5 separate regions of the Homo sapiens genome follow, and regions 1, 2, 4 and 5 are each linked to region 3. Evidence: fine-mapped expression QTL. A gene starts in region 3. Each other region holds a variant in brackets. All regions are shown on one strand. Distances are from middle to middle. Region 1 overlaps RRBP1 (ribosome binding protein 1). Region 2 overlaps RRBP1 (ribosome binding protein 1). Region 3 holds the start of RRBP1 (ribosome binding protein 1). Region 4 overlaps RRBP1 (ribosome binding protein 1). Region 5 has its middle 110 kb from the start of SNORD17.

Region 1 (6,250 bases), 34 kb after region 3:
AAGTTTGGGGAGCAGGGAGCATTATAAACCCAGACGTGGGATAAGGAGAAAGCCTCTTTCTTTGGAAATGAAAGGCACAAATTCTTTACTAAATATTTGGAGAGGAGGAAATTGATGGGATCCTCGAGAAGTGGAAATTCCCCAGAATGGAAGCTTCCCCGTGTTCCGGGTACTGTCAGCTGACGCACGTGTCCAGGCTTTAGCTGGTTTGTTCTCCGATAGTTAACTGAGCACCTATGCACAGTGTCTATTAGGAAAGTCAAGTTTCTAACACAAGACGTGTGTGTATGCAGTGGTGTTGGTTTTTAAAAAAATCTATTTTTATCCTCAGATTGAGTCTTTGTTTGCAGGATTATGCTGGTTTGCCTCCCACCTGGGCTGCCCTGATCTTGTACTAATCACCATCTGGGTGTTACACTGGCAGGAGAGCTGTCCCACCCAGCACCTGGAATCAAGTCTGGATCCTACAGTGTGGGCGTAGACTGAGGAAGTACATATGTACATTCTGAAGACCCCACAGTTAGCATGAGCTCCAGAACAGTGTACTTTTAACTGGAGCTTGCTTCACTCATTGTTGCTGCTGGTTGGAAACAGGTGTTTCCTCATTACCTCTGCTAGCACGTCACTCAGGGGATGCGGGGATGCAGGGTACTTGTTGCACTCTTGGGGAGTCTGGAGCTCACCCAAGGACCTGTGACCTTTCTGCCTAATGGACGGGGGTGGGTAACCCTGGGGACATGGCACTTCTGTCTTGGCTGTGGGCCTGCTTTCTGCGGGGCCCTCTTTCCCCAGCCTGCTGATGCAAGCCAGTTTTACTCTGTGGCCAGAGAGACCATTGTGTCATGGCCCAGGAGAACCCACCCAACCTCCATGAGGTGGCAAACACTCAGAAACAGGCATTTCAGAGGCCCATTCTTGCCACGTTGTCAGATAAGTCCATGTGGGAAAAAGAGGCCACCTTTGGGAGGTAGGATTATGGGTAAATGTTAGTATCTTCCTTTCACCCTTCTGCATTTTCCAGTTTTTCTATAACTTTTTTTTTTTTATGGAGAAGAAACAACTCCATTATGTGTCTCTAAGTCAAATAAACAGGCCCTCATTATACCAAAGCTGATGGAACTCTCATCCTTCTGGGTGTTTTGAGGCAGCCCTGTGTCCTCTGAGGAGCAGCAAGGAACACGTTGCTCCTTTTGGGGTCTGGAATGAGGAAAGGTAGTGCCAGCTCTTCTGAGGCCTCCAGAAGGAGGCCAGTGCGTGTCCCAGCCCTAGCACACAGGCATCTGGGAGGCATTCATGAACTGAGGTAAGGTGGGAAGTTAAAGGCAGTTCCCACATTCTGGAGCCTGGCAGTGCCGTGGTGGGAGGGGGCCTGTGAGCTCTGTGTCGTGTGCAGTCTCGCTGAGCCCCCATTCTACCCCTACAATAGGAAATGTAACCTAAAATCCCAAGTCGTGTTCTGCAATCTAATGGGGCTGGGGTCACAGGTCAGGGGGTATGGGGAAGAGTTGTCAAGCCCCCAGGAAACGGTATTCAAGGTGTCTAGGGTAGCAGGGCCCTTAAACAATTTGACTTCGTGATGGGAACACCCCTTGCTCCCAGCTCCTCACCCACCCACCCACCCACGCCTGTCCTCCCCATGTGTAGCCTGCTTTGCTCCAAACCCAGCGCTGCTTAGCACAGCAGGTCTGACGCCACTGCTCTCCCCAGCCAGGTGTTTGTTCAGATGTGCAGTTTAGGAGGCTGGTTTCCATGCCTTTATCCCTCGTGCAATTCTCTAAGGTGGATTTGAATTTTTACCTGTTTGACAGAAGCAGAAAGCAAAGCTCAGACTTCCCAGAAGTCATGCACATGACCAGCAGATGGCAGAGCGGCCGGTGTGGGCAGCCCCTCCCGAGGCCCCCGCCCTGCCCGGCAGGTGCCCCTGTGCCCTTCTCGCCGGCAGTTGCACAGAGAGGTGTACACGGAGATCAAGTCAGATACTTTTTCTTTTGAACCTAACTCAGTTTCTCAGGGTCTGAAGCTCTGAAGAAAACTCTCTGGGGCTTATGACCCTTTATTCACTTTCTGTGGAAGTTCTTCAAACCCAACTTTTTCTTTTCTTCTTCTTTTTTTAAAGAAGAACAAAAACATCCCCTAGGGAAGCGAGCCAAGTATCAGTGTGAGAAGCTGCTAGATGACACTCTTCCAGAAATCTCTTTTCAGCCACTTGAAAACGTGTTGAGGCTGGGACTCCGGTCACTGCCCCCAGACGGCTGTGGTCAGACAGCCTGGGATTAAAAATCCCCTGCCGTTTTCTGCAGGCATTAGGTAGAGTCCTAATTGCTGTTTAAACTGTATTCTCCTTGGGCCAGCCTGTGTGCCTTGGGAAGGGCCTTGCCCAGAGGTCCTCCAGGAATTGTCGTTCTTTTAAAAATATTGTGATGTGGGTTTTTTTTAACTCCAGGTATAAAATTGGTTTTGTTGAAATTTGGAGGAAAAAACAAAACTTTAAAGAGGAAAACAGTTCTTCAATCTATAGGATATTTTAAATTCCATTAGATACCATTAAATATACCAGTCCCCAAGTTTGTAGCCGATTACGTTTTTCTCCAACTAAAGGAAAAGGACTGATTGAAAGGCCCTGAATTGGGTTGTTCTTGACATTATTTGTACTGAGCTCCATTGCCCTTAAAGCTGCGGATGTGACCGTT[C/T]GTGGCATTTGGGGTCAAGTGCAGCTGCGCCTCCTTGGCCTGCTTCCTGTCAGGAGCGCTGAGCAGCGCTTGGGCAAGGCCGGGCTCTGTGGCCTGAGCTGGGCCTGGAGTCCACTGTTTGTGCACTGCCCAGGGCCTGCCTCAGCTGTGGGCAGATGAGCAATGAGTGAGAGCAGGAGTCGCAGTTTGCCTCCAGGAGCATTTGGTAGATCTTCATTTCCTCCAGGGTCTCATAAAGCTCACTTCCCCCACAGGCTCAGGAGGAGCCTTCACGGCCACAGTCCAAGAACGAGCAGTTAGAGGCCAGCAGTGATGTTGGCCGGAGCTCCTCCCTAGAGAGCGTCTTGCGTCCCACCTCGGGGTGGGACCCTGAAGGGAGCCGGCTCCTCAGGTTGAGAGAGACAGAGATGCCCTTGGCTTTGGGTCAGCAGGAATGGGGAGCTTGTCCTCAGCCTCTGAATCTTGGTCTGCAGAGGCTGATGACTGCTTGCGTGGTGCTGGGCTTCCAGGAGGCATGTGGGAGCCCTTTCCTGGGGCCCCAGGGTCTTCACCTTCTTACAGCAGACCTGAGTTTGGGTCGGGTGACTGGGGACTACAGGGCGTGGAAGGCACGCCAAGATTGCGATCTGGCTTGGGCAGCCATGCTGGGTGCCTTGGTCTGCACTGTCTGGAGTCACCCCGTGCAGGCCCGGAGGCAGCAGCTATTCAGACTACATGTGTGTGTCTGAGGGAGGCACCCTCAGAACTGATCTGGACAATCTCTTAGGAAATGAGAGTTTTTGCCACTGGAGTTCTTCCCCAAGCCCTCAAGTCCATGCTGTTTCAGGTTCCATTGCCAGAGTCCCTGGGTTGACACCTGGGCCTCTCTCCCACCAGCTCAGCTTCCTGAATACTCGGGCCCAGATCCTGGTCCTGGGCTCTTAGGACCCAGCGGGGATAGGCTCTTAGGACCAGGGTCCAGGCCAGCTGGTCTGCCTGCTTCCAGCCGCATCCCCCTGGGCATCCTGAAATCTTTTTCTCAAATTCAAACGCTCCTTCCTAGGCATCGCTTGTTGCCTACAGAATAAAATCCAGATTCCCAGGGCCTATGAAGACTTGGACCTAGTCCAACCTCGGGTGCAAGTCTGACACGCTAGGGCCCAAAGCCCCTCACCGTGTCCTTACCCAGCTATGCTTGGCCCAATGCCTTAAAGCCTTTCTCGGCATTGCTGCCACAATTGTTCTCCAGGTCCCCCTTGTGTCACTCTTCTGCCTTATGGCCCTGTGTCCTCTGCCTCTGTTGGCCACAGCCCAACCTATAACTTAACTTTCCAGGCCCAGCAATTTACGAACTGCTGGGTATGCAGGTGGTACATACTTTGTGTCTAGAGACCACCTGGCCCTGCCTGCCCTGATCAGGGCTGCTGGGCACCTGTAGCAGCAGCTGGAGCTGAGCCGGAGCCTTTTGTGGGGCCCATCCCAGGGCCAAGGCGATAATCCCCTCCTATTAACCACCAGCTGCTGCCAGGGCTCAGGCGGCAGTTCCTGGAGTGGTTCTGATACCCTCCCCGTGGACTGAGAGAGCCAGGTGTGCACAGTGCAGGGGTGCTCCAGCAGCTGATGTGGGGGGCTGGCCGCTGAGTCTCATGAGGCCACTTAGGGCTGAGATCCTCCTTCTATGCCTGAGCCCTGGCCATGGGGGATCCTGGAAATTATACAGAGAGAAAAGCCTCATCCAAGGACGCCACAGTTGACAGTGAGAGAGAACACTAAGTGCCTCTTTGCCAGATGAGTTTAATTTTAGGTGCCTGAGCCTCCCAGTGTGGTCGCAGAAGGGAGAGTCATTTTGAAATTTGGGGTGTGAGGTGCGTTATCTGAGCTGCTGTGAGCTGCTTGAAGGCCGGCCATGCTGATTTATTTTGCTGTGCGTTACCCTGCGCCAGGCATGGTTCCAAGCACGTTGCAACTTACTCTTTTCAGCCACGCTGTGAGGGGAACAATGATCATCCCCGTTTTGTAGGCAAGGAAACAGAAGCAAAGGAAGGTTAAGCCACTTGTCCAAGGACAAAGGTGGGAAGGAGCTGAGCTGGGATTCGACTCCAGGCCACCTGGTCCCAGAGGCCTTGCTCTGACCTTGGTGCCCCACTGCCCAAGGACAGAGGTGACCTGCAGACTGGACGTGGCCCACGGATGTGTTTGTTCATCTGTACAGTGGTTTCATTCATTTATTTGTTTTTTATTGAGTTAGCTGTCAGCAGTAAAGATGAGAAGATAGCACTTAAAAATCTCGTTTCCAGGCTCTTGGGCAGGCCTGTGGCTTTGAGGGTTCTGGCTCAGATTCCCCCATTGCAGCTATCACCTGGAGGTGAAGTGCCGTGCCCAGGACCACCCAGCTCAGGAGAGGCCACCCCCCTGAGCCCAGGCCTGTGTGGTTATTTGTCACAGTACCTGTCCCATTCCTGCAGGGCCTGGCCCCTGGGGTGTTGCTGTGTCCCCTGCCAGACAGAGGTCTGGATTATCCATCAAAGTGAGACACTGGCCTGCGTCTCTACTCTTGGGTCTCCTGCTCCCTGGTCACTCCCCAGGCCTCCTGGCCTGTCCCTTCCTGGTATTTCATACCCACCAAGATGGGCAAAGCGTTAGCCGCAGGAGCAAGCCCTCAGGGAGCTGAGCTTTTCCAGCATTCACTGCACCCTGGGCCTTTTGAAGTCTGTGATTTCACAGACTAGGTGTTGAGTCTGAGAGACTTAGTTTAGTGCGTTAAGATTTCACAATTCGGAAGATTACTGGTATCTTCGAGTATTTGCTGGAGCCCTAAGTGATGTGCTGGGCACGCCTTAGGCTCCCGTTAGTACGTTATTTAAATGCAACTCATCTGGAGGCCCAGAAATCCTGCCTCTGCTTCTGAGGGCTTTCCTTTTTTCTTTCAGTTGTGCTGCCCTTGATTTGGGGACAATTGAGACAGCAGAGTTTTTACCTAAAAGATTTAATGAAAAATGATTTGTAAAGTTATAGCTCTCTAAAAACAGTATAAAAGGTAGTGTTTGTATGAGTGTGGCAAAGGCTGTGGAAGTTTCTGGGGGGCCATGAGAGGTGGCAGAGGAGAGCGTTAACATTTTGCTGTACGCAGCTTTGCGTTTGTTTCGCGTGTTGCAAGTTTTTATTTTTCTGTTAAAATATCTAATAGAATGGAATTACGTTAGAAAGTTTTAATAAAGATTTATGAGAATGCCGCTCCGAGAACACTCTCGGGAGCACTCTGTGGACTGAGCCTGCGGCGGGTGAGCATGTGGCCATGCTGCCCCTGTGCAGGAAGCGGCGTCCTAGAGCGCGTGCCCTCCAGCTGCCTTATCCAGATGTTTCCCCACCCAGCAGTGCAGTAGGGGCCGTGGGGCCTGGAAGGGTGGTCTTTAAGGAGAGAGTTCAAGAGAGGCCAGAGCTCTTGGGTCACTCTGGAACCTCTGTAGGACCAGGGGCTGCCAGGAATTCAGCAGGGGGCACTTTGGGGGTCCCTGGTTCTGGAAAGGAATAGGCCAGCCAGTCCAGGAGAAACAGAATGTGAGCCACACACGTGTGAGCCA
Region 2 (6,250 bases), 54 kb after region 3:
AGATGGAGGCCCGTGGTTTCCATCAAAGATTTTAAGTTTGGGGTTCCTGAAGGTGGGTGGGTTTTTGTTTGCTTGTTGCTGGAATCAGAGTTCTAATCAATGTTAGTAACAAACGGAAGAACATGTGTGGTCAGTCTCCCTGCAGTCTGAGCTGGAGTCCCTTTTCTTAAAGAAAAAAAGCAGCAGCAGCTGGTGTGTTTTCTTCCAGTCGTGTAATGACCCTGCCCTATGTATCCTGGTCGAGGCAGAGGTGTGAGGGTGTTGGAGCCGGTGGGTGCAAGGCAGGCTCCTGCCCGGGACACCTGGCAGAGGAGAAGCAGGTGTGCTTTCTGGGAGCAGCTTGCAGTCACTCCTTTCTTTCATTTCCTCCCTAGGAGTTGGAACTGAGTAATCCCCTGCTACGTTCTAATGCAGAAAGCACTGCCCATCCTAAAGCTGCCCCCAGTTTTCACTGCACAGTACACGTGAACCACGGCCTAGTGGCCACCTCCTTGGTGATGGCTTCACTGGCTCCAGCCACGCCTCTGCCCGGATGGTGCTCATCTGAGCAGTTACCCCAGCTCCAGGTTGTGCAGCCATTGCCCTAAAAGAAAATGAAAATGGATGTGGATGGGATCAGCTTGGTAAAGGCATTGACGAGGGATAACTCACAGCCTCTTATTCAAACAGCAGTCATCTGTTGATGCCCCTCTTACCTGGTTCTGCCCCCAGACAAGCTTGTTAATGAATAATCAGTGGTCGGGCTTTTTGGAGAACTGAGTTCTCCAAAGGGCTGGTTAAATGGAGGCCTTGGCCAGCACTTCTGCCCCAGTGTGTGGGAATCCTTTACAGGTGGATGAGGGTGTCCTGTGGAGCACCGACTGGGACTGCCAGAGCCTGCCTGACACTGAGCCGGGAACTGGGCAAACACTGAAGCTCTGTGTGGCTCCTAAACAAGGGTGTGGTGGGCCTGTCTGTCCTGAGTGAGGAAATGTCTCTGAGATACTTTTGAAGCATGTGAAATTGCCATTTTTGTAGGTAAAAATGGTCAAACACTGACAATTTCACGTGGTTCAACCTAATATTAAGAACTAAGAGCACTGCCCTATAGCGTGATCGCAGTGGTGCACCGTGCGTGTGTGTGTGTAACATGTGGAGCTGCAGGTGGGAGACCCACCAAGCTGTCCGCCCCTGGGAGAGGAATCGAGGACTGGATTGGGAAATGTCGCTAGTTTACTCTGAATCAGTATCTTTGGACTCTTGCAGTAACCATGTCTTCATGAATCACTTGAGAATGTAAAAATAGGGACTCAGAAAAGAACTGGGAAGTGAGTGTGGGTCCCTGGCAGCTGCCTTCTCCCCATGAAAGGGTTCTGGCCGAAGTGAAGCCTGTGCGGGTTCTAGAGCCTCGAGGGATGCATTTCCTTCCCACATGGACCAGAGACTGCACGGGGCTTTGGTGGGGTAAAGAGCTCTGTCCGCCTCCACCGCAGAGCCGCTGAGGGCCTGGTCCTTCCACGTCTTCACTGCCCCACTCCCCTGCCCGTCCCCAGGCGTCCCACAGGGAGAGTGAGGAGGCCCTGCAGAAGCGCCTGGACGAGGTCAGCCGGGAGCTGTGCCACACGCAGAGCAGCCACGCCAGCCTCCGGGCGGATGCCGAGAAGGCCCAGGAGCAACAGCAGCAGATGGCCGGTAAGGGCGGCGGCAGTGGGGCCGGGGGTTCAGTGCAGGGTGCTGGGTCTGCATGCCGGCCCAGCCCCACTGCCAGTGCCAGAACTCAGTGGGTTAGGCCTGTTGGGTGAGGGCAGCACGGATCCCTTGACTGCCCCTCAGAAAGTCAAAGAGCAGGGGATTATGCCCAGTCAGGGGCTGGCGGGGGGCGCAGTCAGCCTATAGGCGCAGTCCAGAGGTGGGGGGATGGAGCTGTGAGGATGGGACCTACAGGGGCTAGAAGTGGGGGGCAAGGCCTGTGAGGGCCTGGTGCATGGGAGCAGGGCATATGGGGGTGGAAGGCACTGCTTCCCTCCCAAGCCTGGGTCCGCAGTGGCTGTGGATGAACCAGGGAGATCCTGAGGCGTCTCAGCTAAATGTGTGTTCTGGGCCTTTCTACTCTCCCAGCTCAGTCAGCCCAGAAGGCCAGGCAGGATTTACAAGCCTGTGGTTCCCTTGCTGCAGTCGATCATGGAAAGGGTGACAGGGATGGAGGGCCGAGAGCCCCTGGAGAAAGGGAGCTGAAGGTGCCAGTGAGAGGCCCGTGGCCCTTGGCTCACTGGCGCTTCCCGAGCCCCTCCCCAGGCCAAGCACTGCCGTGGGTGCCGGGCTGGGCTGGACTGGGGGTTACACGACAGAGTCACCTGCAAGGACAGGATTGCACAGCAGGGCCCTCTACACAGGGACTGTGTTCAGGGCAGGGTTGGCAACTGTTTCTGTGAGGGATGGATGGTGAATGCTTCTGGCCAGTCTCTGTCACAACTGCTCAGCTCTGCCACAGTGGGCAAAAGTGCCCGTTAACACCGGGTGAACTGTTTCTGTCGGGGATGGATGGTGAATGCTTCTGGCCAGTCTCTGTCACAACTGTTCAGCTCTGCCACAGTGGGCAAAAGTGCCCATTAACACCGAGTGAACAGAGGGGCCTGGCTGTGTTCAAAGAAAGCTTCATTGATATCACTTGGAAAAATGGAGGTTGGGAGGCACGGCCCCAGCTTCCCGGCCCCTGCTCCAGAGGGCTGGGCATGGCTTTAGATTGCGTGGTCCTGGAGACTCTCTGAGGCAGGAGGGGATGCATGGCAGAGGCCAGCACAGGGCCCGGAGGTGGGAATGAACTGACTTGGCCTATGTGAGAAATGGGCTAACAAGTGTGGCTGGAAGGAGAAGGCTGGTGGCGGGGCAGGGCCAGGTCACCCTCCCTCTGAGGAGCTTGGGCACCGTGGAAGGTGTGACAGAAGTGCTTGGGGCAGGAGATGAAGTCGTCTCATGTGCGCTTCTGGACACTGACACCAGGTGGAGAGCAGACCAGAGGGGCACGAGTGGCCCATGGAGACCAGGGATGAGGCCTTGCAGTTGCTGAGGCCCAAGGCAACAGGGCAGGGCCCAGGTGGCCGCAGAGGTGCTAGTGAAGAGGGCAACTTGACAGATGGCGGGTGTGGGCTCGTAGGCTTCGGCAGTGGGCGAGGGAGGAAGATGAGGAGTCCTGGGAGGTCGGGATGTTGGGTTTGCGTTGTCTAACTAGAGCTTCATTTAGAAGAGGCAGATGGCAGAGCCTGGGGTTGGGGAGAGTGCAGCCTCAGAGGCACGAAGATGACACTTAGACCCATGGGACTGTCTGAGGTGACCTGAGGAGGAGGACACCTCAAGGGGAGAAAGGGGCCCAGGGCAGAAGAGTCACCCCCTGGCCTTTCTCGACTGTGAAGAGGTCTTGGGGGTTGAGGGGGACCCAGCCAGGGAGGTGGGGGAGGTGTGGCAGTGGGGTCCACCTAGCCACTTTCTAAGGAACTTCTGGTCTCAGTAAGAAAAAGAGTCTTCTAGAAGATGAATCTTTAAAAGCCTCAGCTGGAGTCCGTTTCCACTCTCTATCATTTTCTCATGAGTGTCCTGAGAGCATTGCATTCTACCCTGACGGTTCTCAGAAGTGATGCCAGAGTGGCACTTTCTTCAACCGCTAACAAGAGGCCCCAGTGGTCAGTAGTATGTCTTAAGAGCCCCAGACACACAGAGGAGGCAGGAGGAAGCCCTCGGTGCCCCACATGTGCTAAGAGGGCAGCAGTGAGGGCATCCTCCACACCCCCTGGGGTTTGCAGTCTCTTAACTT[CTCG/G]TTTCCCTTCCTCTGCACCAGAGCTGCACAGCAAGTTACAGTCCTCCGAGGCGGAGGTGCGCAGCAAATGCGAGGAGCTGAGTGGCCTCCACGGGCAGCTCCAGGAGGCCAGGGCGGAGAACTCCCAGCTCACAGAGAGAATCCGTTCCATTGAGGCCCTGCTGGAGGCGGGCCAGGCGCGGGATGCCCAGGACGTCCAGGTCAGCCTTCTGCCTGGGGCCACGGGGAGGAAAGGGAACTCCATCTAGCAGGTGGGTGGACTAGCCCCGCTGCGTGAGATGAGTCTCCTGGAGACCAAGGAGCTTTTGTCTCTCATTCCAGGCCAGCCAGGCGGAGGCTGACCAGCAGCAGACTCGGTAAGCTGGGGAAGCAGCCTGCCTGCTCACTTGAGCCTCAGCCCGGGGGACCAAAGACCCTTGGGGGGCCAGGGTTTTCAGGAGGGTGCTCAGGTCCTCTGCAGAAGAGCCCCTTTCAGAGGCTCCCTTCCCTCCCCCATCCTCCGGTGATTTAGAGGACGGGACAGGCCTGGGCGGGAAAGAAGGCGGCCTTGCAGAGAGCTTCGTGATCACATCGTTCCAGAGTGGCCTCAGCCAGGGTGGGAGCACCCCCTGCCACCTGCCGTCCGTCCATCCACCTGTCCATCTCTCTGTGGGAAGGGACTGACTGGTCAGAGGTTCTGTGTGTACAAGCAAGGGATTTTAGGGGCTGAGGTCAGGAACTCTAACAGGAAAAATGGTTGCACAACCCAGAATGGCGAACCCAGGCTTGCTGCTGGAGCACAGGTTTGAGGCGTCGGGGCAGAGCTGGCAGCGTCTCAGCGTTGTTTTCCTCCATCTGTGAGGTGACTTCACTGCTGGCCAGACCTTGTTTTCCCTCCGTGTCAGCAGCACCAGCGCCAGGCCATGTTCGGGGAGTGTTTATTTGCTGTTGCTAAGGCCGGCCAACACCTGGGTGGGGTGGCTCGAGTCAGGGGCCGGAGTCCTTGTGACCATCACTTCTGGGGCTCGCCTCCTGTAGCACATGCCCACAGTCTGGGGAGGCAGGTCCTGGCCGCCGTGGCTAGGGGTCCATGCAGCAGTAGGTGGGGGAGGCATGGAGGGTGTCCTGCATTCCCTCGCACACGGTCAGATGTGTCCTAGGCCATCAGTTCACAAAGTTCCCTTGTCCTGACCCTCGTCACCAAAGAAGCACCTCCCTGTGTGCCTCTCAGCAGAGGCAGCTCCCCAGGCCACAGCCCATGTTCCCTGGCATTTGGGCTCTGCGGCTTGGGGACTGGGAAAGGAAGCCAGCTGCCCTGAGGGCCCAGAATGACCCACAACCAAACCTTGTCCACCTTCCTTTCCCAAAAAGCATGGGCAAACTTTGTTTCTCCTGGTGGTGTTTGTTGGGGTAGAGAGGTTGTTGTTTTGCTCTTGTGTTTTAAGATCAGATTCTTGGGCCACACAGCATATTACTAGGATAATGAACTCATGTTGTAGTTAGGATTAATCTGAATTTTCTTGCATCATGTAGATGTGTCTGGCAGAAATTGGTGCTTTTATTTCCTTCTCAAACAGTTGATCTGAAAGTTATGTGTAGGCTGGGCCATCCTGCTCTGGAGTAGAGAGGAGCGATTCAGCCCCAGATATTCTAGAATTCGGGCAGTGGCTGCCAAGGGTGTGATTGTCAGTGTGTCCTTGCCACTGGCCTGCTGACACCTCTTCCTCGGAGTCTCATTCTTTTGGGGACGCTCTTGGGGTGATTTGCCGGCGGAGGCTGTCACATGATGCAGGGAAAAGCTGTGAGGGCCCCAGGAGAGCTCTGAGGGCAGGGTCACGATTCCACCTCTCCTGGAAACCCAGCTCTCCGGTGTCACCAACTGGGACTCTGGTGACAGCTCTGGGGTCAGTGCTCTGGATGGCGGGGGGAGGGGAGGGTGTTGGGGGCTGCTCAGGCTTCCCTGGGAGCTCACGCTGGGTGAGGTGGGGGCAGCCAGAAGGGACCGTCCCTGGCCAGATGGTTCAGCCTCGAAGGTACTCCTCCCTGGATGGGGCCTCAGGTGGGATCTGTAGGGGCTGTAGCCCCTTGGAGCCTAGGCGGTGACCTCGTTGTGTCCCTTCAGCCTCAAGGAGCTGGAGTCCCAGGTGTCGGGTCTGGAGAAGGAGGCCATCGAGCTCAGGGAGGCCGTCGAGCAGCAGAAAGTGAAGAACAATGTGAGTGCGGCAGGCACAGGCGGGGACGGACGGGCCAGGGAAGCACAGGTGGGGCCGGGAAAGGTTCTGCTATGTGGCACCCGCCCTGGACTCGGGGGAGGGCTGAGCTTGTGTTTCTACACCCCATTGTGCTGTGGGGGTCCAGGGTGTGGGGGGTGCTTCTACTCACCCCTGAGTTCCGCCAAAGACCCAGGGCTGACTGCCTGTGGATCAGCCTGCGCCACTCGCTCAAGCGTGGAGTCATCCCTGGGGTGGGGACAGTGTGCTG
Region 3 (6,250 bases):
GGGCTCAAGCAGTCCTGGGGCTAGCTGGAGCTGCATGGGCACACCACCACACCTGGCTAACATCATGCCTTACTTTGCCCATGCTATTCCTCGCCAGTGTGCCCTTTTTGGCCTGGCTACCTCCCACTTCTTCACACCTCTGCTGTCAGCCTCTGCTCCCCTCAGGGTGGGGTAACTCCCCCGGCTGGGGGCTCCCAGACTGCTGACTTTGTGTTGAAATGACCTGTTCCCATCTGAGAGCCCCAGCCTGGAGGCTGGACTGTGGGATGGGCTTTCTCGTGCTGCTGGAGGGCTGCATGATTTAGCAGAAGACTTGAGCCTGGGGGGATGCCTCTCACTCCCACCACAGGCAACCCTTGTCCATCTAGTCCTAGGGATGGATCTGGTTTTTCCCAGATACGCCTTGGGAGAGCTGACGAGGCTGCAGGGGGTTAAAGATGGGTGTCCACAGGCACAGCAGTGGCTGTCAAAGTCGGGCCACCCTGAGGGTGTGCAGATCTGCCCTGACAGAGCCTGGTGCAGCGGGACTGATTTCTTTGCCCAAAGGGCATGAGGATGATGAGGCTGGAAGTCTTCACAGCACATTGGGGCTGGCTGTTGGCAGATGAGGGGCAAGGACAGAGGAAATGCAAAGGCTCAGACAGGGCTGCTCTTCCATCCCGAAACAAATGTTGTGTTGAGGCCAAATCAAATGTTAAGTTATGTAAGGGAACAAACAGGGAGCCCCTTTTCTGTAAACACTCCTCACTCCTAAGGACTTTGTAATGTTATCGCTCATGGGACAATATTTACAGAACACGTATATTCACAAGCCTCTATTCTGTGCAGGTGCTGTGTCGGACTATGGTTCACAGTGTGGGAGACACTGCTGTGGCCCCCGACATGCCTCCAGGCACTCACCATTCTGCCAAGGGCTTCTTGCTGCAAGGCTTTCTCCAGCTTGATGGGGGCGGGGGTTAAAGTCCCCCCAGAAGAAGCTGTTAACCAATGAGGACTGGGAGTGGCTGGATAAATAACCAGGTCCTCACCCCTCAGCTGGGACGTCTCTGGGGTGTGTTCTACAGTTTCACAGCATCCCCAGAGACGCCGAGCCCTGTGTGCCCACACCAGTCACAGGCTTGATGTTGGTCCCCTTATTGGCTCCTGCTCATCCCACTTCTCCACCAATGTTTCTTATGATTATCCCCCAAATGAATGATTGAACAAACCCTACTGCCAGGATCTGCTTCCGGAAAAAGATAAACAGTGAACAGGATAAAGGAGGTCCCTGTCCCTGGACAGGCCCTTGAGGGCAGCTGGGTCTTCACTGGACCTATGTGTCATTCTAGGCTGCTTGCCCAGCTTAGCACTGTATACCGGGCACTCCACAAACACCGGTGAATGAATGAATGAATGAATGAACGAATGAATTTCCTCCCTGAAACCCAGAGGAAGGAGTGATTGTCCTAAAGGAGTATACCCATGTTCAGAAAGGTTAGATGGCCCAGCCCTGGTCAAGTAGGACTCATTGGTAGCAATTGCCAGCCAGAAGCTGGGATTCTTGACTTTCATTTGAAGCCGGGTCTCACTGCTGGAAAATGACTGAGTGTTCCAGAGTTAATCCAGGTTAATTCCTGCTGATTAATCATTAATGGGCTAAGGAACCGCCAAGATTAAAAATAGGAATGAACAGTTTAATTTCAACCCAATCGCTCTTTATTCCCCATGAAGGCTTGTATTTTTCACATCTTTCTAACAACAGCTAGTACAGTACTAGTGACAAATGGGGACAGGGAAGATTGAAAATTGTCCAAGAAATAGATGTTAGGCACGGGATTCTGCAGCAACAGGAGCTAGGGAAGTGATGGGGGGCAGTCTAGGCAGCCTTTGGTCGCTCAGAATCCAAAATTCCAAAGAAGCTGGCTTTGGCTCAAGTTCAAAGGGTTGGCTTTAAGAGACGCTGACATAATGGTTAAAAATCAAGCCTAAAATTATTTTAATTTAAAGACTTGACTAATTATGAAGACTGAGTGTTGGCTGATATTGGGGAGAAAGTCAGGGAATGAGGAAGTACCAGTTGCTCCGTTTTGTGGGACACGGATGAGTTTTCTTAGGTTAGAACCTCTCACCTTCCCCAACGCATGGAATAAAACGCCACAGAGTGGATTGTAATTATTGCTCTGCCGGCTGTGATTTGGTTGAGTATCTTAAATAGACCGTGCCTCAGTTGTACCCTCCCTAACAACGAGGGCGATGACATCCGCTTCAATTCCTCGTGCACCTTCTGGCTCTTCCACCCCAATTCCTCCATTTACTGAAGGAAATTCCTTCTGGTGCTGATTGCAATCTCTTTGATGATAAGAACTTGCTCTCCCTGGGCTGACCCCCAGCAGAGCTTGTCCTCATACCCGGCGGCCCGAGGGGGCGCTGCTTCGGGGGAAGTTAGTTGGGTTTAAATAAAGCAGCTTCCTTGGCTGTTCGCGGTTGCGCAACCCTGTTCAGCCACCGCCATGTCAGCCCAGCGGTATCCAGAGGCGCAGGCCCGGGGTCGCCGGGACCCGAACCTTCTGCTTCCCGCCTAGGCAGAGCCGGATCCTAGTCAGAGACTGCTGGGAGCGCCGCGGGCCCAGAGTGGGCGGAGCTGGCCGGAGACCCCCCCCTCGGTGGGCGGGGCGTTCCTGCTCCGCCCCGCCCCGCGCACGGCCGAGCGCCGCGCCGCTCGGCCCCGCCTCTCCCCAGCCCTGCCCCCTTCACCTCCCCGCAGCTCCTCCCCTCTCCCATTGGCCGAGGTGGAGACCCTCCTCTCTGCCCAATGGCCGCCGCCGCGGCTCGGCCACCCGCGTCCTGACTGGCCAGCGACCGGCAGAGTGGCGGGGTGCGGACCAATGGGAAGAGGCGGCTCGATGAATGGCTGGCCCGGGTGGGGAAGGCAGGAGGCGGCGATCCCGGCGGAGGGGGCCGTTCGCCAGCTCTGAGGCAGAAAGTGCCACGACTCCACACGCGCGCACGCAGCCAGCGAGCGGCCGGAGCGGACGGCAGACGGGGCGGGCGGCGTCAGGGTCGCAGCGTCTACAGCTGCTCGGGGGCGGTTTCTTGGCGGAGGCTTGGCCGGCTCCTCTCTCCCGGCTCCGCGGCGGCTGCGAAGGCGGCGGCTCCTGCCCTCTCGCTTTCCCTCTCGCGTCTCTGGCTGCAGGTAAGAAACTTGGCCGGGCCCTGCAGCGGCCGCGCGCGGGCCGGGCCGTCGGGGGGCCGGGGCCGGCCGCGCTGCGCCGCGAGTGACACGTCTCCTCGGCGGCCCCTCCCCCGGCCCGCCCGCCGCCCGCCGCCTGCCGCCGCGGCCGTGCACCATCGGGGTCGGGGTCGGACTCGGGGCGGGGGTGCCGGGCAAGCGCCGTACCGGGGCGTAGGCAGGGCGCGCCCCGTGGTGTGGACCCCGCGGCCCTCGCCGTCCGGGGAGCTGCGGCGGCAGACGGGCGCGACGTGGCGACCGCTCCCTGCCTCCCTCCCTCCCGGCAGGGCCGTCGGGCCGGCCAGCGCGCTCCGAAGTTGGGCGAAGAAAGTTGGCGGCGGGGCGGGGCGGGGCGGCGCACAGCTGGCGGAGGAAGGGGTTAAGTTTCGGGAAGCCGCCGGATGACGTTGCCGGGCTGGAGTCCGGGCCGGAGGGGTGGGGTGCGGGCGGAAGGCGGCGGAGGCCGGCCGAGGGGAGGAGGGCGGGATTGAATGGGGGCCCACGGGCCGAGCGCGCCGGTCCCGGGCCGCGGCCCGCTGGCGCTTCGCGGGGCTGGGACGGCCCCCGACGGGGCGGGCCGGGGCCGCAGGGCTCGCGGCGCAGGGACCGGGTCTGTCCATGGCACGGACGCCGGGCGGCCGCGGTGGCAACTTCCCGGAGTGCGGGAGGCGGCTCCCTGCTCCCCCTGGCGGCGGGGCCGGGGCCACCGTTTCCCCGGCTGGGCTGCGCGGAGCCTGGCTCGAGGGCTCCCGGCGGGGGGACGAGGGCGCCCGGGGCCCGGCCCGCCCCGCCCGCGGCCACGATGAATGGGCCGGCGGTGCCAGCCCCGGGCGGAAGCGGACACCTCCGGGCCGGCCAAGCGCGCTGGCACCCGGCCTGGTGCCCGCCCCGGCCCGGCCGGCTCTCCCGCTGCGCCCTGATTAGGGGAGGCAGGCCGGGGTCTGCGCTTCCAGTGGGGCGCCCGCAGTGCTTCAGGGACCCCTCTCCGAATGATAAGTCGCGAGTTTTAGCTCTAGAGTGCCCCGGCTGGCGAGGGTGACCCCGACCAAGTTGTTTCGTTCGGGGTCTCCATTTCCTGGTCTGCAAATCGGGGCTCCTGTTAGCTTCGATTTGCGAGGAAAGCTGTGGAGACCCAGCACTTGTAGGAAGGAGCCACAAGTGTTGGCTGTTCAGTTGGGATGCTTTTGTTGGGGGGTGCTGGACACGGGAGGAAGGTGGGGCCTGGCTCCGGCACTGCGGCGGGCGCGGGGCTGCAGAAGTTGCACAGCCGGGGTTCTACACCCCGGACCACGTACTGGCCGCCTACTCGCAGGTCCCATAGCCCCTCTGAATCCTAGTTTCTTATCTGTGGCCTGAAGACAGCACCACCCACTCACAGGGTCGGGAACCACGCCGGGAAGTGCTGGGACCTTGTACAAACAGAAGGCAATTTGGCAATTACTCTGAGAGGTCAGAGGTTAGGAGAGACTGGGAAGCACCAAGGAAATGAAACTCTGAGGGACCTGAGGAGCCTCCCACGTCACTGCTCAGCTATTCACTCTGCGTGCTGGAACCTTCAGGGTAGGGGCCATCTGGATGGCATTTTCAGGAATTTGGAGAAATGGGCCTGGTAGGGCCTCATATCTCACATTAGATACCTCTTCAGAACTGGGTGTCCCCAGAGACCCAGGACGTCTGTCTGGCACTCCCAGGAAGAACAACTGCGAATGTTACCCCGCCCTGTGCAGCTGGGGGGCATTCTCCCACTGCCCCGCCTCCCTCCTCACACTCCTTGTTTGATTTAACTTCCTGTTAATCCGACACCTAGAGAAATCTGTGACCCTGCAGCATGTCACTTACTGTGTGATGTCTTGACTCGTTTACGAACTTGCCAAAGGTCACTCCCACTATCATATGCCAACCTCTTTCCCTTCCAGAAAGAAGCTTCCGGTTCTGAGGTCCTGGAGGTGCCATTTCCCTCTCTGTTGAAGCAAAGGCCGGGGCAGACCTCCTAGTAGGTGAAGTTTTCCTTTTACATGGAGCACCGCAAAGCCGGCTTGCAGGGATCTTGGGCCAGTGGAGGCCTGGAGGAGGCTAAGGTTGGGGGAGGGGAAACCAGAAAGGGATCTTGGGGTTTAGGAGAGGGTTTAGAGCTCTAGGCACTATAACAACTCTCACCTTTCATACTTAGGAATCTGCCTCTGAACATTTACAGAGAGATTAAGAAGTTACAGTGGTTCATGGTATATGAGTATTTTTTGGTGATGGAAGAGTTTTAAATAAATCTTAAATCAAGTCACATTTGAGCAATTATGCTCTTTAATGAAATGAGCCCTAACTCAACAGGCTGCAATAATTACATAGCAGCAAACTCAGTTTAAATGGTTGAATGCCAGTGATTGAATTGGAGTATTGATTTATTATGTAGCAGGGACACCTTTTAAAAGTGTCGGGACCCCAGACTCTTCTTGTCTTTTTAGCCCTGGGAATTTTAACTAATAGATGAATGACACATAGAGGATCAACAGTTCTGTTGAGACAGCAAGTTTTTCTTTGCTAAAATCTTGTTTCAGGAGAAACAAAAATAATGGTCAAGTCAGAATGATGAAGGCAGGGACTGTGCTGTCCGTCTGTGCATGCTGGGCCTGCAGTGGTTAAGGCCTGGCCTATAACATCATAAATATTGGTTATACCAGGCGGACAGCGCCCCCATACCTGTTAAACTATTCCCAGCTGTCTCATTGGATAAATGAAGCTTAGCCCAACTTGGTTTTTAAGGTTCACTTTTTAGAATCAGATTCCACAACTGTGGTTTACATTTAGGCCTTAAAATAACCCTGTTCTAGGGGGTGGGAATGGTTGTCACCCATTCAGTGGATGAGAATGTGGAGGTCCAGCTGGTCAGAAGGTTGTCAGGCCAGTTCCTGTTGCCCAGTTGCTAGGCGATGTGGGCCCGGCCTTCCAAATGTTCCCTCCTGGCTATATACCTCCACCTTCCTGGGGCAATAATTACCCAAGGGAGGACACAGAACGTGAAGATCAAAATTAAGAGCTTCAGTGGCA
Region 4 (6,250 bases), 64 kb after region 3:
CCCTGCCTGCCTCCCGGCGCCGTGGAGCACATGAAGCCCAGGGGAGAGTTGACAGGATTGTCTCTGTCACCTGTGAGACTCGTGTGTCTCGGTGGGGCTTTTCCACGACACCCTATGAAGCACAGTTGCGGGATGACAGCTCAGTCCGTCCTCCAGGAGGCCCCCGCCTAGGAAGACACTGCCAGATGGCGCCAGGGTGACCGTCCCAGCTGGGCGGAGTGGGCACCCCCGGGGCTTCCTAAGTTGGGTCAGTCCCGCTCGGGTCCTAGCATGGCCTCGGAAGGAGACACCCCCAGGTGCTCGTGTCTGACGGAGCCTTCCCCTTGCTTTGTAGTCCCGGGTCACAGTGAAGCATCTCGAAGAGATTGTAGAGAAGCTAAAAGGAGAACTTGAAAGTTCGGACCAGGTATGTGCTCTGCTCAGAGAACTCTTTCTCTTGTCCCGGGAGCCTCTTTGAAAGTGACGTTAATGCAGAGGACACTTCACTGATTTCTTCCTCATGGACCGTGTGCCTTAAGAGAGGCATTCTCTCTCAAGCCAAGGGATCTTGTCCATCCTGTTTTTCCTTAATGAGAGACATTGACTACCTCAGAGGACCCTGAGACCCAGCCACGGGCCCTGTGCAGACCTGCCCAGCCCTGGTGAACAGGGCTTCTGCCACGGCCTTCACAGTCAAGGTGGCCCCACTGCCCCCTTCAGACGCCACAGGGAGCCCTGGAGAAGGTACCCTTGGTACCTGCTTTTGCAAGTAAATCTAAGAGCATGTCAGTCCCCAGGAGTGCCCGGGTGCAGCCTGCCACTTTCCGTAAGGGGTTCTCTTGCCGCGGACTAGTTTCTCGTTTGCTTGGTAGCTGGTGGGCCTCAGGGATCTCCCGAGAGGCCTCACCTATCCCAGGGCCAGCCTGCTCCCTGAGGTGAGTGCCCTTTGAGCAGAGGCTGCTGGCGCATGCGTGTGCGTGTCTGTGCATCTGTCCAGGTGAGGGAGCACACGTCGCATTTGGAGGCAGAGCTGGAAAAGCACATGGCGGCCGCCAGCGCCGAGTGCCAGAACTACGCCAAGGAGGTGGCAGGGGTGAGTCTGCCCCCCAAGGAGTGCAGCCCCTGCCCAGCAGATCTGCGGTCCTCCCTGAGCTGCTTCTCCTCAGCCCTGTGGGAGCAGCTCTCGGTGACATAAGCCTTGAAGTCCGAGTCCTCAGGCGTTTGCCCGAAGCCTCACAGGCCCCTCGTTGGGCTGTCAGGCCTGAGGTGTCTCTCAGGGCAGGTTTCAAAAAGGCAGCCTCCCAGCCAGGACAGGGGCAGAGCCAGGCAGCCCTGCCCCGAGGGAGGCGTTTGACGTTCTAGGTTATCCCTCCGCAAGGGGATTCTCTGCCTGGCTTGCTGATGTCATATCTGGTGGGGAGTGGATTTAGATCTGACACTTTTTCTGCTCTTCAGAAGCAGAAGCACAAGCCCAGTATCCCAATTCTGGTTTAATCTCAAACTTTTGGGCCAGGCACAGCGGCTCATGCCTGTAATCCCAGCACTTTGAAAGGCTGAGGTGGATTGCTCGAGGCCAGAAATTTGAGACCGGCCTGGGCAACATAGCAAGACCGCATCTCTACCAAAAAAAAAAAAAAAAGCCAGGCACACTGGTGGGCACCTCCGTTCCCAGCTGCTTAGGAGGCTGATGCAGGAGGATTGCCTGAGCCCAAGAGTTCAAGACCAGCGTGGATGACAGATTGAGACCATCTCTGAAAAAAAAAATCATCTCCAACTTTTGGCCCTTTTTTGCCAGAGATAATCAGTAAACATTTGTGAAGGCCTGAAAGAGGTACGCAGTGAACACCATTCTTCCTAAGTCCTCAAAAAAGAAATCGTAGCTGTAGGAAGCCTGGCGAGCCCTGTGCCGGCCCGATGCTGTGACCCTCCTCAGGGTTTTGGTTAAGTGGATGTGTTAGGTTTTATGTTTCGGCGCTAACTCACGGGGACTGGTTTTCTCCTTTTCTCTCCTTTTTTCCCATCACCCGCCTCTGTTTTCTCCCCAAGCTGAGGCAACTTCTCCTAGAATCTCAATCTCAGCTCGATGCCGCCAAGAGCGAAGCCCAGAAACAGAGCGATGAGCTTGCCCTGGTAGGTGGCCTCCATGTCCCCATGCCAGGAGTGTGACCTGGGGCGTTGCGTGTGTGAGATGCATTTGCCAGTCATGCGTTTGTGTCCACTCAAAGATAAAGCCTAGGGAAGGGACAGTGTCACCCGTTGAGCAGCATGGGGCCGGCTTCTGGGGGCCTTCCTGCACATTTGCCCAGAACTCTGAGCTGGGCCTGTGGCTGTTGGGACCAGGGTGCTCCCACTCCATCTCCCGTCCCCTGGCTACCTGGTCCCCTGTTCAAGGTAGTGAGAGCTCTGGGCGTCTGCATTCCCTGTGAGCCCATTGTAGTCACCTGGGGGCGTCAGGGATATTGCAGTCCCTGGCATCACAAGACCAGGAAGCCTGGGGGTTCCTCCTGGCCTGGCCACCCATCGCCCTGGGGCTCTCAGCAAGTCCCGTGCCTTCTGTGGGTTTTCTCACCTCAGTGACAGCTCAGATCAATTCAGTCAAAGCCACAGGCATGCAGGGAAGACCTGCTCCACGCCCGGCCCCATACCAGCTGCCGGGTGCAGAGAGCAGCCCCCTTGGCAGACCACTGGAGCTCTGCCTGTGCAGGTGGCCTCTTGAGTCCCTCCTGG[T/C]GTTCAGCTCAGGTGTCTGATGCCAAGTCCCAGCTCCTTGGCAGGCTCCACCCAGCCTCACCGGATCTGGTACCGCCCCAAGGCTGGTGTTGTGAGCAGCACCCTGTGAGGCCGCAGACATGTTCTGTTTGATCTGCGGTGTTTTTTTAAATCTTGAATTAGTTGTCAACAGGGAGAAATTGGGAAATTTTAAATAAAAATGGGCTGGCATTCCCCCTGCAGCAGCCAGTGAGTCCGGCACACGCTCCCAACACCCTCGGTCCCCCTTGGTCATTCAGGTCTTACCCGGACCAGAACACCAGAGGGCAGTGCTGCCTAGGCCAGGTCTCCTCCTGTGTCTAGGGGCCACTCACTGAAGCCTTGGCTGAGCGAAGTCTGGGTGACAGGCCCCGGGGGCATGGCCCAGGCCGGGGATGTGCAGAGAAAACCCCCTGGAGTTTCTGTTGTCTTCCAGCTGTGCAGTTCGTTATTTGCATTGGGAGGGGCTGTTCAGAGGGAGGGAAGAATGTCTGGGGTTCCCACGTACCTGGGGTGGCCCCTCAGCGCAGGGTCAGAGACCGCCCATGTTCCCTGGGGAGCTTATGCCAAGGGCCCCACCTGGGTCTCCAATTGGAACCTCTACCTGAGCCTCTCGAGTGACACCTGCCCTTCAAATTGCAGGCCCAGTGGTTTGGGTGCAGCCAGATATGCCACCTAACCCCAGTGATGGAGCGTAGGGGTGGGGGACCTTGTTAGGCAAGAATGTTATCTCATAATCTTTTCTAGACCCCGGAAAGGGCTCTGAGCAGTGGACTGCATCCTTGAAGGAGAAACGGGGGGTGTAGACAGTGTGGCGGCCACCCCCCGGTTCCATTCGGATTCCTTTGCTCTGTGGGCCATGCCCATCAGGGGTCACCTCACTCCCAGGGAGGGCTCCCCTCCGGTTGGGCTTGGAGCAGAGCACATTGGGTCTCATTAGCCCAGAGGCTTGGTGGCCTTGGTTTGGCTCAGGTTGGCGGCGGGGGTGGCCAGACATAGGTCACAGTTACCAAGCCAGGTCCCCTGAAGGGACTTTGGCTGTTGAGAGCAGCTACGGTCCTCCGAGGGGGTCCCTGCAGGAGTGAGCATGGTGGGTGTGCGACTGGCTGTGCATTTGCAAACACACCCCTTCCTGTTCCAGGTCAGGCAGCAGTTGAGTGAAATGAAGAGCCACGTAGAGGATGGTGACATAGCTGGGGCCCCAGCTTCCTCCCCAGAGGCGCCCCCAGCCGAGCAGGACCCCGTTCAGGTTAGGGCGGTGAGCTGGTCCCCAGACACATCACTAATCCCAGAAGAGTGCAGGCCCTGCTGCCTCCGTTCGGACTAAACCCCGCACTGGCTGCTCCAGCCTCCGCTGCTTCCCCACCCCACCCTGCTTTGCCCCATTTGGATCATCCAGGTTCGGAGAAAGCCACAGAGCATGGAACAGAAAGGTGGCCAGGTGGAGAGGCTGGAGGAGTTGGGGGGAGGTGGGACTCGAAGAGGGAGTCCGTGATTTGGGGTCTGCACCTACAGGGCTCAGGAGCAGCTCTGGGCAGGGTCTGCAGCCATCGAAGGGGACTGTCTCCCACTGCAACCCCGGCTGGGACATCGCTAGCAGGATATTCGCTCTCCAGAGTTTTGAGCCCGGCAATAGCCACCAAGAGTCCTCACCAAGAGGCAGGGCCTGTCCCTGGGGTGGCCATGGTGTGGCTGTTAAGGGGGTTGTCATGGGGCCAGGGCTCGGAGGCATCGTTCTTGTCCTGTGAGTCTCGTTAAAGGCCCCTGAGGTTGCAGAGGCCCCATCAGCTGCTCCTGAGCCACACCGAAGTCTGTACCAGGGGCTGAGGTGCCCTCTCCCCAACGAGGGGAGCGTTGGGGCAGGGAAAGGGGAAGCTAGAAGCAGCTAGAGAGCGGTGCCTGTGCTGGATCCCTGGGCCCCTGGAGGGTTCCTCACCGGGCTGCCGGGTTATGTTTGCGGTGTTTGCACAGCTGAAGACGCAGCTGGAGTGGACAGAAGCCATCCTGGAGGATGAGCAGACACAGCGGCAGAAGCTCACGGCCGAGTTTGAGGAGGTCAGGCCCTGCCTGGTGGCTCTCAGCCCCCATCAGCCCCTGGGCCCTGAGTCTCCAGGGAATGAGTGGGTCAGCCCTGCCCCGCTCGGCTGTGCCCAGCAGCACCTGGGCTGGGCCTGGGCCTTCTGGGCAGCAGTGGGTGGGGCCCGGGCAGGTGGAGCACAGGCTGGAGGCACCTTGGGAGCCCTGTGGGTGGTCTGCATCCCTGAGGAGCCTTGAGGGCCTGGGGCTGGGTCAGAACTTGTGGGTCTGGCCCACTCATTCCAGCTACAGGATGGAGCTGTTGCTCCATCAGGCTGGGGGGGCCCCCTGGTCCCCAGGCGTGCTCGGTAGGGTCTTGACAGCACAGCCGTTTATAAGACGTCTCACCCAGACCTCACTTCCCTCTCCGGCAAGGCTCAGACCTCGGCATGTCGGTTACAAGAAGAATTGGAGAAGCTCCGCACAGCCGGCCCCCTAGAGTCTTCAGAAACAGAGGAGGCCTCACAGCTGAAGGCAGGCAGGGGCTGGGGCGGGGGTCACACCTGGAGGGTCTGCTCTGGGGCTGGCGCCACTCTTGGCCTCGGAAAGGGGCCAGGAAGGGGAGAGCCGACCCCACCGGGACCTGCCCTTGGCACTGGTTCCCCTTGTCACTACCCGGGGCTGGGGTGGGGACTCCTAGCCCTGCAGTGTCACATGGTCACATGGCAGCCATTAGTCCTGGTGGCTGTCGAAATGTGAAGCATGTAGAACGTGAAGTGCGTTCCTCAGCCACACGTCCAGCGCTCAGTAGTCAGGTGTGTCTCCTGTGCTGCCTTGGACAGTGCGGAGTAAACTGCTCCTGCCCCAGGAAGTTCTGGTGGTGCTGAGAGCACAGGACCCAGCCCTCACGGTCAGCATGGGCGGTTTCCTCCCTGTCGTCACCACCTATCTCCGGGTGACCAGGAGTTGCCTTCCTTGTGTCCCCAGAGGGCTCCAGCCCCTGGCGTCAGGGTCCTGTGGGCATAGCTGGGGTGGCCCTCCTGCCGGTGCAAGGGCTGATGCCCGTCAACCTTCTGACCATCAGGAGAGACTAGAAAAAGAGAAGAAGTTAACAAGTGACCTGGGGCGCGCCGCCACGAGACTGCAGGAGCTTCTGAAGACGACCCAGGAGCAGCTGGCAAGGGAGAAGGACACGGTGAAGAAGCTGCAGGAACAGCTGGAAAAGGCAGTGCGTGCCTGGCGCCAAAGCAGGGCGGGAGGAGTCGAGCTGCCGGGAGCCCCGGGGAGGCAGGACCGGGAGAGGCAGAGCTGGGCGGAGTCGTCAAGCTGCTGGGAGCGCTGGGCTGGGAGCCCCAGGGGAGGCAGAGCTGGGCGGAGGTAGTGGGGACAGAGACTTCCTAACGAGGGCTTCAGCCCACCCGGCCCACCACCCACCCTTCTGGGGTTCCCTTGCTGGGAAGCGAGTGTCTGATCCCCCTGCTGGCCCAGGTCCTCACTTTGCACCTGTGTG
Region 5 (6,250 bases), 170 kb before region 3:
GAGGCGTGGGTGAAAGTGGCAAGAAGCCACTTCCTGGTGACCCAGTGGTAAACACTTGAGGTCAACCTTGAGCATTGATCTGCCAAATATTTGCCTGGGTCACTGACCTAGCATACTTCCTGCCTTCATCTCCTCCCCAGCTGCAACCCGACTGCCCTACCCCTTGATCCTGGAGGGGTAGACATCATTTCCCAGAGAGGCCCTTTCCAGGCACAGTCCCCTCTCATGGGGCATGGGCTGTGGGTGAGGGTGGATGGGCTGGGGACTGGGGCAGGCATCCTCATGGGCCCTTTGAAGTGGCTACCCCAGTGAAGCTGGTCTGAAGCGGTCAAGGTTCACACAGCTGCCCACGCAGAACCAAACTCCACAAGGACCAGGCTGCCAGGGCTCCCTCCCCAACAGCTCCATCACCCGACCCTGGGAAAAAGAGAGACCTTGCCTCTCCAAGCAGGCAGGAGGAGGCCAAGGGGTCTCTGGCCAGGGCCTGGAGAGGCTCTCTCTCTCTCTCTTTCATCACACACACACACACACACACACACGCACACGCACACGCACATGCACGCACGCACGCACACACACACACCCTACTTCCCCTGAGTGCCCACCCTGGGTCGGTCACCATGCTAAGTTCTGCACAGACACTATACCCCACATTGTTGTAACCCTCTGTGAGTTACGTTGCTCCATTTTACCAAGTTGGAAACCAGGATTCAGAAATGTTAGGCAACCTTTCTGAGCTCACACAGCTGCGAGTGGGGAAGCTGGATGTCAGATCCCAGGCTGCCGGATGGCCTGCAGCACCCAAGAAGGAGAGAGAAGGACAAGAAGACCATGCACCTGTTCTGGGAGAGTCTGGGACAAGAGGAGATGTGAGGGCTGGTCGGAGGCAGAGCCGCTGTGCCTGCAGAGCACTGATCATTCACAATCATTTCCCAAAATCGCTTACAGGGAGAGAATTAAACCAACTTGCTTAAGTCATTGTTGTTTGGGATTTTCTGTCACTTGAAGCAAAAATGGTACTAAATAAAACACCTGTAGTCTAAGCCCCTTCCACTAGGCTGGCTGCCTGCTCTCTAAAGGCACCTCTTTCTGTGCCTGGCTGTTCCACAGGCTGCAGCCTTCCCTCTGGCTGTGGCTATCTCTGTATTTCCTTCAAGGCCCAGCTGAAAAGACCACCTCCTCCATGATGCCTTATGTAATTTCTACACATCAGAAATGATGAGTTCCTTTCCCTGCTGTCTCCAGTCTCTCAGTTTATTTCTTGTATTGAAGTCATCATGCCTGATTGGCATGTGATAATCTTCCATTGTGTATCTGTCTTACTCCTCAAGTTGGAAGAGACAGTATTTCCTTCAGCTTAACGGGGATGGTGTGTGGGTAAACCAGCTCTCCAGGAGAAAAAGCACCCTGATTTGTAGTGCTAGCCAATTCCCATGGTGTAAACGCTCCCACCATGGTCAGTTTCAAGCTATGATGGTTTAACAACTGGCTCAAAAAATTCCTGAGCATTTAACAGTTGGCTTTCATGAGTCAGTGCTAGCAGGCTCCAGCTTGCTACTGCTTAGGGTCTACCCACTGCAGAGGCTTAAGGCTTGCATTTAGTAGGCGTGCAACAGGCTGGTGCCACAAACTCTTACTTGGGTGTATTATTTGATTCAACACTTTTTTTTTTCCTGAAACCCCTACTTTGTTCCTAGAAGAATTTTAAATGGATATAGGGGAAGATCATTTGCAAACATGGTGACAATCCTTCCCCCTCCCTAAATCTATGCCCCTTTCCAATGTGACTTTGTAGCTTCTGGGGCTGATTTCCAGTCCTTGAATCAGGGATGGCCTTTTGACTTGACTTAGCCATTGGAATATGTTGGGAGTCACCTTATGACAGTTCCAAGCCTGGGCCTCAAGAGGCCCTGAGTACTGCTGCTCTTGTCTTGGGAGCCTGTTGGTTACCATGGATAAAGCCCAGGCTACTGTGCATAAAGCTCAGGCTATGCTGCTGAGGATGAGAGACCACGTGGAGCAGAGGCATACTGTCTCAGCTGAGCCATCCCAGATCAGACAGGCCCAGCAAACCCAGCAGCTGACCAAAGACATAGGAATGAGCCCAGCTAAGCACAACCCAAATGGCTAATATGAGGACTCATGAGCTAAATAAACAATAGTTATTTTAACCACTACATTTTGGAGTGGTTTGTTATGCAGCAAAAGCTGATACACCATCTTTGCATTCAGAAGTAGCTTAGCTTTTGACTGGAATGTCCATCTCTATCTGAGTGAGATATAGATAGCTTCATATTCCCTGCTATCCATCAGCCAAGAGCAAGAAGACCAAGTGTCAGCACCATTGGCCCTCCCAGCACGTAAGTTCCAGTAGAGTCTTACATCTCTCCCTAAACACAGCCTACAGGAACCTGGAAGATGTGGACGTTCTGGCTCCCTGATGGAAGAGTTGGACAAGAGGCATGGAGTCTGTGTCTATACACCAGAGTTAAGGTGAGCTCTCCTTGCCTTTGACTTTGCCTGTGCCGTGAAGTCATGCGGCTGGAGCTGCTCTTTTCCTATTAGTCAATGAAGACTTAACTGCCATTTGTGGGAAATGTCCAGCCAGGAATGGGAAACTCACAAATTCTTCTCTTTTCTGCCCCATAGAATTATTATTATTATTATTATTATTATTATTACTATTTTTTTTTTGATAGGACAAGAGGATCCTAATGTATCTGGGTTGGGGAAGAGAGAAAGAGCTGTGTGTTAAAGCTAACAATAATTTTCTACTTTCAGTTCAAGAGTAAAATCTCTCCTGTAATCTGTGAAGGAGTGTGTGAAAAACAAAACAAAACCCAACCTGCCCTCCAGGTTTGAACTGTAGAAACTCTGTGGTAGAAAAAAAAGGCATTCTAGGGAAGAAGAGAGGAAGCAGGCCATGAAACAGATTTGCAGCTGCAGGA[C/T]GTGGTGGTGTGTGGTTCCCCTCTAACCAGCTGTGTGACCTTGGGCAAATCTCCCGGCCCCACTGGGACTGCATATCACATGGGGCTGGACTAGAGAACCCCACTCCCTAGAGGATACAGTATTTTTATGAGGGAGAGCTGGAGAGGCTCCTGACTTTTGATTGTTTACCCCTGGAGGTGTGTACAACCACGTGCCATTGACAGACAATGTACCCATTGTATGACAGGGAGGTAGTGGTGCCTTCCCCAAGTTATAATTGGCCTTGGGACACAGTCAGTACATACACACCCAACATTAGACACTCCATCACTGAGCAACTCAGTGCCTCTCATTCACAAGCTGTGTGATCCTAGGAGGTTATTCCACTTCTCTGATCTTCCATTTCTTTCTGTCCCTCCCTCCCTCCCTCCCTCCCTCCCTCCCTCCCTCCCTCCCTCCCTCTCTGTCTCCCTCTCTCTCTCTTTCTTTCTTTCTTTCTCTCTTTTTCTTTTCTTTCTTTCTTTTCTCTCTTTCTCTCTTTCTTTCAACAGGGTCTCACTCTGTCACCCAGGCTGGAGTGCAGTGGCATGATCTCGGCTCATTACATCCTCAACTTCCTGGGCTCAAGTGACCCTCCCACCTCAGCCTCTGGAGTAGTTGGGACTACAGGCATGCACCACCATGCTTGGATAATTTTTTTTTATTATTTGTAGAAATGGGGTTTCACCATGTTGCCCAGGCTGGTCTTGAACTCCTGGGCTCAACAGATCCTCTGGCCTTGGCCTCCCAAATTGCTGGGATTACAAGTGTGAGGCACCACATCCAGCCTGATTTTCCATTTCTTCCTCTAAAGTGTCATGTCATGTGAAACTTTTACAATGCTGGATTGTAAGAAATATTGAATGAAAAAACATATATAGTGATACTGTATGATTCAATACATAGAACATATACAGAAGCTTATTTTTATCTATTCACTTACAGGAAATCATGTTGACCAGAAGGTCTAATTTGGCCTCAAGCAGCCACACTACACTCAGACCTTCTGGGATTTTTCATTTTTCAGTTTCAGGACTTTTTTGTTCAGTTATATGTGTACTGGAACAATCTTTTTTTTTTGGCTATAATTTTTTTTAGGTTTTATGGAACACCCTTGGTGCTTATCTCAAAGGGTTATCAAAAGGATTACATGAGGCCAGGCATGGTGGCTCACACCTGTAATCCCAGCACTTTGGGAGGCCAAGGCAGGTGGATCACGAGGTCAGGAGATCGAGACCATCCTGGCTAACATGGTGAAACCCCGTCTCTACTAAAAATACAAAAAATTAGCCGGGCATGGTGGCGGGCGCCTGTAGTCCCAGCTACTTGCCAGGCTGAGGCAGGAGAATGGTGTGAACGTGGGAGGAGGAGCTTGCAGTGAGCCAAGATGGCGCCACTGCACTCCAGCCTGGGAGAAACAGCGAGACTCCATCTCAAATAAATAAATAAATAAATAAAATAAAAAAGGATTACATGAAATAATCCACCTAAAGCATGAAGGTTAGTTCCTGGACCAGTGGATGCTTCATCTATGGCAGCTACTATAGTGACTTCCCCACAGTGCTGGATGTTTGCTCTTGCTAATGCGGGGATTGATCTCCAGCTCTGGCTGGCAGGGCCTCTCAAGAACCCAGCCATCCTGGTTCCCCAGACCACAGGTCATCTCCCCACCTAAGATCATTCTCCCACAGTCCCCTCCTGTTGGGGATAGGGTGACAAAGACTTCTCCCTTGCTGCTCATGCTCTCCATTTCTGTAGGAATCAGAAAAGACGCAAAGCTGTCAGCTGAGACAATCTTCTGCCTTCAGGTAGGCACAGGGCCCTTCTCATCCCCATCACACAGCTCAGGCGGTGGAGACTGTCACTTTCCTGTTTGTCCTCAGATCCATCCCTCATCCTTCTCTGCTGTGCTGTGTTGCACGGCCCTGACCTCTGTGGACTACATTTCCCAGGCTCCCCTGCACCCTGGCTTCCTGACAAGTTCAGTCAATGGGAAGCAGTGGCAGGAGATTGAGCTTGGTAGAAGAGAGAAGCCAGGAATATTCTCTCTCCAGCCCTTTCTGTTTCAGGTGATGCCTCCAGCAGTGGCCAAGTCTCCTCCATAACTTCGGCTCCTAATAATACCCTCTCTTCCCTTGTTCCTCTAGCCCTGGGGAAGTAGCAGTTTCTACTTTCTGGGTTGCTCTACCCTCCCGTTTAGGTTTTCAGCTCTTCCATCACCTTTGCAACTACAGGTGACCCTTGAACAACATGGGTTTGAACTGCACAGGTCCTCTTCTACATGGATTTTTTTCAATAAACATTTTTTGGAGATTTGTGATAATTTAAAAAAGCTTGCAGCATGGTCTAGAAATATCAAGAAAATTCAGGAAAAGTTAGGTATGTCATGAATGCATAAAATATATGTAGATAGGAGTCTATTTTATCATTTACTACCATAAAATATACACAAATCTATTCTAAAAAGTTAAAATTTATCAAAACTTACACATACGGACACAGACCATACATGGTGCCTTTCAATCAAGATAAATGGAAACAAACGAAGATACAGTATTAAATCATAACTGCATCGAATTCACTGTACTGATACCATACTACTGTCATAATTTCATAGCCACCTCTTGTTGCTATTGTGGCAAGCTCCTGTTGCAAGTATCCACTTAAACACCATATGATGCTGATCATCTCCCTGTGAGCAGTTTGTCTCTAATGATACACTGCATATTGCAGTGAAAAGTGATCTCTTCTGGTTCTCGTGTATTTTTCTTTGTGTGCAGTGCATACCATAAACCCTGAATAGCACCATGAGACCCACATGAAGTGCCACTAGTGGTGCTGGGGGTGCTCCCAAGAAGCAGAGGAAAGCCATGACATTACAAGAAAGTTGAATTGCTTGATGTTTACCATAGATTGATGTCTGCAGCTGAGGTTGCCGGCTATTTCAAAAACAAATGAACCAGCCTAACAACCATTGCAAAAAACAAAAGGAAATTCGTGAAGCCATTTCTGGGCCAGCAGGCACAAAAACTTTGCACTTTTTTTGCAAAATTCCTTTCATATTGAAAATGCAGCTTTCATGTGGGTGCAGGATTGCATACCTAGAGACTCTAATATGATTCACGAAAAAGCAAAGTCGTTTTATGACAACTTAAAGCAAAAGGGTGTTGGAGGATCTAAAGCTGGAGCATTTAATGATAGCAAAGGATGGTTTGATAATTTTAGAAAGAGGTTTGGCTTAAAAAATGTCAGGATAACAGGAGAAGCAGCTCCTGCTGACCAA

The links.
Region 1: its variant is fine-mapped to the expression of RRBP1 in whole blood (TOPMed, PIP above 0.99).
Region 2: its variant is fine-mapped to the expression of RRBP1 in whole blood (TOPMed, PIP 0.98).
Region 4: its variant is fine-mapped to the expression of RRBP1 in whole blood (TOPMed, PIP above 0.99).
Region 5: its variant is fine-mapped to the expression of RRBP1 in whole blood (TOPMed, PIP above 0.99).

The regions. Positions count from the first base shown.
Region 1 is chr20:17,644,958-17,651,207 of GRCh38, reverse strand. All of the region lies in intron 3 of RRBP1 (ribosome binding protein 1), which reads left to right. Among named protein-coding and RNA genes, the nearest start is that of RRBP1, 34 kb to the left of the region's middle. RefSeq lists silencers at 1,844-1,973, 2,623-2,712 and enhancers at 2,125-2,828, 2,893-2,982. The variant C/T (reference allele first, on the strand shown) is at 2,691.
Region 2 is chr20:17,625,244-17,631,493 of GRCh38, reverse strand. It overlaps RRBP1 (ribosome binding protein 1), which reads left to right. Exons shown (of 25, transcript NM_001365613.2): 9 at 1,533-1,671; 10 at 3,812-3,990; 11 at 4,112-4,146; 12 at 5,892-5,982. Among named protein-coding and RNA genes, the nearest start is that of RRBP1, 54 kb to the left of the region's middle. The variant CTCG/G (reference allele first, on the strand shown) is at 3,788.
Region 3 is chr20:17,678,950-17,685,199 of GRCh38, reverse strand. RRBP1 (ribosome binding protein 1) reads left to right here and starts at 2,958. Exons shown (of 25, transcript NM_001365613.2): 1 at 2,958-3,172; 2 at 5,125-5,201. RefSeq lists enhancers at 2,288-2,347, 3,601-4,273, 4,465-5,664 and silencers at 2,628-3,047, 3,278-3,607, 3,638-3,687, 3,718-4,027.
Region 4 is chr20:17,614,455-17,620,704 of GRCh38, reverse strand. It overlaps RRBP1 (ribosome binding protein 1), which reads left to right. Exons shown (of 25, transcript NM_001365613.2): 18 at 335-406; 19 at 977-1,072; 20 at 2,026-2,109; 21 at 3,866-3,973; 22 at 4,696-4,779; 23 at 5,176-5,274; 24 at 5,825-5,968. Among named protein-coding and RNA genes, the nearest start is that of DSTN, 48 kb to the right of the region's middle. RefSeq lists enhancers at 5,344-6,067, 6,068-6,250. The variant T/C (reference allele first, on the strand shown) is at 2,707.
Region 5 is chr20:17,853,129-17,859,378 of GRCh38, reverse strand. No RefSeq gene overlaps it. Among named protein-coding and RNA genes, the nearest start is that of SNORD17, 110 kb to the left of the region's middle. RefSeq lists an enhancer at 1-138. The variant C/T (reference allele first, on the strand shown) is at 2,949.